Homo sapiens: one gene and its partner. The gene in region 2 interacts genetically with the main gene of each other region. Each region holds a gene or a part of one and is shown on either strand. Other genes may lie near its edges. The genes, in order: EGFR and COPZ1.

Region 1 (3,815 bases), on a different chromosome or scaffold from region 2:
CTTGTTTAAATCCCTACAACTAAGCCAACTGGCTCATACCAGCCATCCAAGAAAATTGCTCTAAATCTCTTATTTTTATAAGAATCTTGGTCAAAGAAAGCATTCCAGAGAATTCAGAGCAAAAAGGCCTTTCTGGGAAGCAACGGTAGCCACATATTTAGTATCAGAGATTCAGAGCCAAGGGAGTTTATGGGAGGCAATGCATATTTCACGCACTCTTATTCTCTTTAATGTTGCACAGTATTATCTAGTGCTTTAAGAGTCAAGTAGGGGCAGCAGTTCTCATAACGAGGCTGCTTCCAAGGCGGGTTTCACTAAGAGATTCCCATCTCCTCCTCCACACCACTAAACTGATGATTACCATTACCATATTAAAGATGCTTGTGTGTGAGCACCTGCATGTCTATTCCACTGTCAAAGCTGAAAAAGTGGAAATTCTTGAAGAGTGGTGCTAAAAAGTCTCTCTGGTCCCTGTGATAAGATGTGCATAACCTCAATTGCATCCTGAGAAAACACCAGCTGAACAGACATGGTTAGACAGTGTGCAAAGTACCTGACCCACACGTTTTGTAAGTGTCAAGGCCGTGAAAGACAAGGAAAGACACAGGAGCTAATATAGGTTAGAAATGGACTGAAAAGATTTGACAACTAAGTGCAATGTGGGATCTGGAGTGGACACAGAAGCAGAAGCACTGGCGAGCGCTGAGAAGTCTGTGGTTTAGCGGACAGCCTGTGCCAGTGGTCGTGCAGTCTTGCTCCCTGTGCCTGCTCATGTGAGATAGCATTTGGGAATGCCGGCGAGAGATGCAGGAGCTCTGTGCCCTATCTTAGCAACTCTCCTGTTAAGCCTAATTTCCAACTAAAAAGGCAAATGTAATCTACCAGGCTTTGGCTGTGGTCAACTTACTGTTGCTTGGTCCTGCCGCGTATGATTTCTAGGTTCTCAAAGGCATGGAGGTCCGTCCTGTTTTCAGGCCAAGCCTGAATCAGCAAAAACCCTGTAAGGCAGATGAAAGACTTCAGACACACACCACGTAGGAGTTTCTTTTTTGTATGAGACATTACTCTAGACTCTCAGGGACTCTGTATTATATGAACAGTAAGTGGGAAAATTGGATTTGCTTTCTTTTTCATTATCATCTTCTCTGAGTGTACATGCGCAGGGCGGACGCAGGCCGAGCCACAGTTCACAGCTGCCTCCCGCCTTCCGCTGCGATTCCGCATGTCTCCCGCCGCCCCCCTGGCTGTGGCCCTGAGACCCCTGCTGCGCCGCGTATCTGATTACCCCGAAGAGGCTCCTGCTGCGATTATCTGCCAATTGTGGATCTGGTATCACATACAAGGAGCTTTACAAATTTTCCTTATTTGATTCCAACCTTAAAACAGTCTTGTTATTTTGGTCTAATCTTCCCATTTTAGAGAGGAAGGAAGCGGAGCTCAGGCGGCAGTCATAGACCCGAGGCTTGCCCGTGGCCCCACAAGGCTCTGGCGTCCAGTTTCAAAAGCCTGAGGCCCAGGCTGCCTGTCACCTACCCCTGTCCCCTCCCTCTACCCTCAGGGGTTATGGGCCACCAAGGCAGCTGGCTGGGGCCGGGCGGGAGGGAGAAAGCGTGTTTACACCGCAGTGAATGACCCAAGCCTGGACTTAACGTGTCCCCTTTTGCCTGCAGGAGAAACTGCACTTTTGAAAAATATCAAAACATCAGCCATTAACGGTAAAATTTCAGAAGAAATGTTTTTATTCCAAGGGAACAGGAAATATGTCGAAAAGTTCTCTCTCTAAAACACTGATTTCCCATTTATATTCATGTGATAATTCAGCTCAAACCTGTGATTTCCTTTACGGTTTTCAGAATATCCAGTTCCTGTGGATCCAGAGGAGGAGTATGTGTGAAGGAGTCACTGAAACAAACAACAGGGTGATTATTGATCACCAATCTCTACCAGTTAAAAAGGCAGATTTTGTTTTTCTTTATACAAGCAACTGAACCTGTGACTCACCCCCTAAATGCCACCGGCAGGATGTGGAGATCGCCACTGATGGAGGTGCAGTTTTTGAAGTGTTTAATATTCGTAGCATTTATGGAGAGTGAGTCTTTAAATTCACCAATACCTATTCCGTTACACACTGCAGAGATAAGAGAGACGTGTATTCCGTTCACATTTGTTGGATTAAGAATAGCTAGGGATCCACAGGCAGAGGGAAGCAGGAAGGAATTCCGGTCACCGGAACCGCCACTGCCACATCATCCTTCATTCACTCAACAAACACTGAAGGGGCTGGGGAGAGTGCAGGCGGGAAGGGGGGACACCAGGACCTATAGTACACTTTGGGGCTACGGCGGTGTAGGAGATGCCATCCCTGTCACCTCACACTGACCTTGCGTTCTCCTCATTATTTCCCATGGGCCGCTTGGAGCTGCACTGCTTCCAGCTCTGCCTTCCCTGGATTCTCCCCAGGGCTGGGCACCTGGCAGCTGCTGAGCGGGGCTGGCTCTGTGACTGTTCTCATCAGAGCCCCCCACCCCGTCACAACCTTCAGTGCCTTCCCATTGCCTAACCTAGCTTTACAGCTTTATCTTCTGTTTTAAAGAAACGATATGTATAGTTGTTTTTTAATGAGAAGAGGAAGATGTGTTCCTTTGGAGGTGGCATGAGAGCCCAGCCTCAGCAGCCGAGAACAAGCCTCGTCCGCACACCGGCGGGCTTCCTACCTTTGCGGCAAGGCCCTTCGCACTTCTTACACTTGCGGACGCCGTCTTCCTCCATCTCATAGCTGTCGGCCCCACAGGCTCGGACGCACGAGCCGTGATCTGTCACCACATAATTACCTGGGGAAGAGAGCATGAAAGGAAGGTGATGACGGTGGCACCAGGTGCTCGGGCCTCACACAGGCGGTCCAGGTCCTCTTGAGGGGTGATGGAAAGGCTCCATCCTCCTTTGGCTTTATTTACTTTAAGGACAAAGAATGAAAGGTTGCAAATAGAGAAGGAATCCCGTTCAAGAGTTTAATAACATTCTAGGCCGCAATGTGGACAATACAGGTGTTTCATCATGGCAGGAAACACTGGGTCCCTTGAGGGGCCAGCTGTTTTGCGTCCCAGCAGGCACCTCAGCCCTCTCCTCCACCTGCTCTCACCTTTAAAGTAATTCATTTGTATTAATAGCAGACTTCTGCGTTATTTTTAGGAGCTCTATGTCTTCCTTTTTTGTTTGTCTGAGATGGAGTCTTGCTCTGTCACCCAGGCTGGAGTGCAGTGGTGTGATCTCAGCTCACTGCAACCTCCGCCTCCTGGGTTAAAGCAATTCTCCTGCCTCAGCCTCCTGAGCGGCTGTGATTACAGGCGTGCGCCACCACGCCCGGCTAATTTTTGTATTTTTAGTAGAGACGAGGTTTCACCCTGTTGGCCAGGCTGGTCCCAAACTCCTGACCTCAGACAATCCAGCCCCTTCAGTCTCCCAAAGTGCTGGGATTAAAGGCATGAGCCAATGAGCCACTGTGCCTGGCCTGTTCCTGTTTTAAGTTCCCCAAGAAGATCCTCAAAAATATTTATAGGACATTGATGATTCTTCTGTGAACCATCTGCTCTTGGTATCTCAGGCTCGAAGTGTTTTCCTATGGATTTTAAAGCTCTGTTAAGCCCTATCTCAAAGATATATCTGTGTCATCACTGTGGCACATTTTTCTTTAGCTTTGTTTGTCATTTACCTTATAATGGCTTATTATTTTGTGTTTTTTTTTTCCATACGGAATGTAAAATTTTTCATGTACACAAATCTGGCAGGGTAAAATCTCCCCCTCATAATTGTTCTTT
Region 2 (3,815 bases):
GCAGCCTAAGAAGACAAAGCGGGGAGTTGATGGGGGGGACCCTCTCTCTTGCCACACAGAGACATATGTTAGAGGAGAAGATTAAACTATGCAAATGGAGCCCACAGCAGTTAAGAGAGATTTCCCATTACCAAGCACTGTCAGCCTTCACTCTGTGGAGGTCAGAGCCAGGACATTCTGTGAATGGGGAGATTTGCTTTGCTCAGACATCTTTGCACCCGTATAATTTGTTGGTGGGCTCTCTCTGCATCCACCATTATCTCCTCAGCTGACCTGGGGCCTTCTATGGTTAACTCAGAGGCCCCTTTCTGATATCACCAGCACCAAAGAGGACTGAGGTTCTGGCAAATAAGTACTTCCTAATGGAGAGGTACCATCCTCAGTTATGTAACACTTTATTATTATTATTTTATTTATTTATTTTTTTTGAGACAGAGTCTCACTCTGTCGCCCAGGCTGGAGTGCAGTGGTGCAATCTCGGCTCACTGCAACCTCCACCTCCCGGGCTCAAGCAATTCTCCTGCCTTAGCCTCCTGAGTAGCTGGGATCACAGGCACGCACCACCATGCCCAGCTAATTTTTGTGTCTTTAGTAGAGACAGGGTTTCACCATGTTGGTCAGGCTGGTCTCGAACTCCTGACCTTGTGATCCGCCAGCCTCGGCTTCCCAAAGTGCTGGGATTACAGGTGTGAGCCACCACGCTCAGTCCTATGTAACACTTTAAAAGACAAAACAGACACTCCTCTGCCTCAGATGACTGGATCCATCTCCAAGAAGGGAATAAGCCAACTTCAAGTTGCTTTATAATTTCAAAACCATAAATATTAAAGTTTATTTTATCATTTATTAAATAAGTATGTATTAAATGTCCACTTTGTGCAAAGACTGTATGAGATGTTAGGCACCATATTAGGGGTAGAAATAAGTTATTTCTGCTTCTTTCTTTGGGACAATAAGAAGAGAAGGGAAGAGAAAGGCTGAATGTATTTGAAAGAAAAAGAGAAGGTTGTATGTATCCTATGAGCCCCAACTACTGGACACATCCAGCAGGTCTGGCTCTGGAGGGTGTTTGTGAATAGATGCGGGGATGCAAAGAAACACATTCTTGCTTACCCTTAATGCCACCCGGTGTACCACCTGCTGGGGATCACTCTCTAGGATCACCCTGCAAAAACAAAGAAGAGATCATTGTTCACTCTGTCCCGAAGGCCCAACTCACTGTCGGGGAACAGGACCTCTGGCCACTGAGCCTGCTTGACTTAGGACAGGGGCAGTTATCCCGCCACCTCACCCAAGATCAAGGCAGGTCAGAGAACTTACCCTCCATCTACAATTTCATCCACAGCCAAGAACAGCCCCTCCATGTTCTCCAGCAGTGCTCGCTTTTCTACATTTTTCCTGAGTCCCCAAGAGAAGAGAAGAGAATAACCAACTTGTATGTGAAAGAAATCCTAGGACCTTGTCTCAATTGAGGAACCTAAACTAGACCAATAAACATCTCCACCAACCACACAAAGAAGTAAATAAGGTGAAGAACTTTTTAGCTAGTTCACTCAAAACCCCTTTCTACTCGTTTGCTGAATAAGGAATGTATGGAAAGAGATTCAAATAACACAGTCAATTTCTGACTATTCAGGGGTTGATTATCCACGCTATTATTTCTTTCCTACCTGCCATGATGCTGCTCATAACATTGCTCATAAACACTGACATCAGTGGGTGGAAAAAAACAATATAAACAGAGCTAAGACTCAGTCTGGAGGTGGCCGGAGGTGAGAGGGGTTCAATGCAAACCTTATTTGTACTCAAGCTCTGACAAACCTCCTGAGACATTCTCTGTTCCCTCTTCTCCCTATCCCTTACCAGCTCTGCTCAGGCCCTGAAAAGAAGCCCAAAGAGGGGGCAGGGTCTGCATACACCAGCCTCAGATCCGTTGGTTGGTGCATGTGGCCTGTCACATCTGTCAGTTTGAGTCTTTCACTAGATTACCCGAATGAATTACTATTCATTCACCTGGATAAGAAATAAATCATCCCCTTCCTGAGGAAATCTGAGCCATTCACCCTGCTGATTTTGCAGGGCTGAGAGTGCCTGCTGTTCTGGTCTGGATGGCTGTCTGTACTGGGTTCACTTGGGAGCTGCTGGGGGAATGAAGTTCAGAGCCCTGGATGTTTTCAGGAAAAGTAACTTATATCTCTTCTATTACCCATCTACACGGGTAACAGAGAACAGAGGGCTAGTGGGAAGGTGGAAAGGGAGGAGAGGGTAAATGGCAGAAGCTTCCTGTTTTTTGTTTTGTTTTGTTTTTTGAGACAGGGTCTTGCTATGTCACCTAGGCTGGAGTGCAGTAGCATGATCACAGCTCACTGCAGCCTCAACCTCCTGGGCTCAAGCAATCTTCCTACCTCAGCCTCCCAAGTAGCTGAGACTACAGGTATGCACCACCACACCTGGCTAATTTTTTTATTTTTTGCAGAGACAGGGTCTCACTGTGTTGCCCAAGCTTGTCTTGAACTCGACTCATGCAGTCCTCCTGCCTGGGTGCTTCCTGTTCTACAGAAGGGAAAAAACAAGGACTAGAAGTCAAAAAAAAACTGGTCTAAGTGGCTCATGCCTATAATCCCAGCACTTTGGGAGGCCAAGGTAGGTGGATCATTTGAGGTCAGGAGTTCAAGACCAGCCTGGCCAACATGGTAAAACCCTGTCTCCACTAAAAATACAAAAATTAGCCAGGCGTGGTGGCACGTGCCTATAATTGCAGCTACTCTACTCGGGAGGCTGAGGCAGGAGAATCGCTTGAACCTGGGAGGCAGAGGTTGCAGTGAGCCGAGATCACGCCACTGCACTCCAGCCTGGGTGACAGAGTGAGACTCCATCTCAAAAAAAAAAAAAAAGAAAAAAAAATTGGGAGTGTTGCTTCCATTCCTGAAGTACTGAATGACATTTCATCTGGGACACTTCCTTATGCTTGGCCTTTCCCTACTTCTAATGTCAAGAATGAAGCCCAGGAAAGCACCTTGAGGATGCTCAGATCTGACAGGACCACAGGGGATTACAAGAGTAAACACAGAGGTAAAGATTCGGCTCCCTCCCAGTCCCCTTACTTAGTAAGAGAATTATTCTATGGGAGGGACATACTCTCCATCCAGTCCTCCCCAGTAGCATGAATTACTGTGAATTAATAAACCCAACTTTTTTTTTTTTTTTTGAGACAGAGTCTCACTCTGTCGCCAAGGCTGGAGTGCAGTGGCGCGATCTCGGCTCACTGCAAGCTCCGCCTCCCAGGTTCATGCCATTCGCCTGCCTCAGCCTCCCAAGCACCTGGGACTACAGGCGCCCGCTACCATGCCCGGCTAATTTTTTGTATTTTTAGTGGAGACAGGGTTTCCCCATGTTAACCAGGATGGTCTCAATCTCCTGACCTCATGATCCGCCCGCCTTGGCCTCCCAAAGTACTGGGATTACGAACGTGAGCCACTGAGCCCGGCAAAACCCAACTTCTAAAACTAAATCAACTCCCTGGAGCCTTTGCCAATCCCCTACAATCCCTGGGCCTGAAGAATGGTTACTTTATCTCCCAAAAAGAAATCAACAATGCCCTGCTCTTTCCATCATAACTTGAGGGGAAAAAAAAGAATGTCCTGCTCACCTCAGCATCTGGCTCAATGAGTCGAAGAGACAGTTCAGAACAGCCATAAGCATCAGCTGTTGGGAAACAGAGGAGGCAGAAGGATAAGGTTCAAGGCCCTGAAAGCTGCTACCTAAAAACAAAACCTCCTAATTCATTAAACATCAAAAGACACAGGCTTTCACAA

What was found.
Region 1: changes in COPZ1 (region 2) and EGFR together harm fitness more than expected from each alone (negative genetic interaction), as found in Homo sapiens cells (one large-scale study listed by BioGRID).

The regions. Positions count from the first base shown.
Region 1 is NC_000007.14:55,154,846-55,158,660, reverse strand, and holds part of EGFR (epidermal growth factor receptor isoform a precursor), read right to left. Parts: intron 2,832-3,815; coding exon 2,715-2,831; intron 2,129-2,714; coding exon 2,002-2,128; intron 1,903-2,001; coding exon 1,829-1,902; coding exon of another isoform or gene 1,818-1,828; exon of another isoform or gene 1,722-1,817; intron 999-1,721; coding exon 908-998; intron 1-907. UniProt on the Homo sapiens protein: Receptor tyrosine kinase binding ligands of the EGF family and activating several signaling cascades to convert extracellular cues into appropriate cellular responses.
Region 2 is NC_000012.12:54,345,350-54,349,164, reverse strand, and holds part of COPZ1 (coatomer subunit zeta-1), read right to left. Parts: intron 3,706-3,815; coding exon 3,650-3,705; intron 1,399-3,649; coding exon 1,321-1,398; intron 1,166-1,320; coding exon 1,114-1,165; intron 1-1,113. UniProt on the Homo sapiens protein: The coatomer is a cytosolic protein complex that binds to dilysine motifs and reversibly associates with Golgi non-clathrin-coated vesicles, which further mediate biosynthetic protein transport from the ER, via the Golgi up to the trans Golgi network.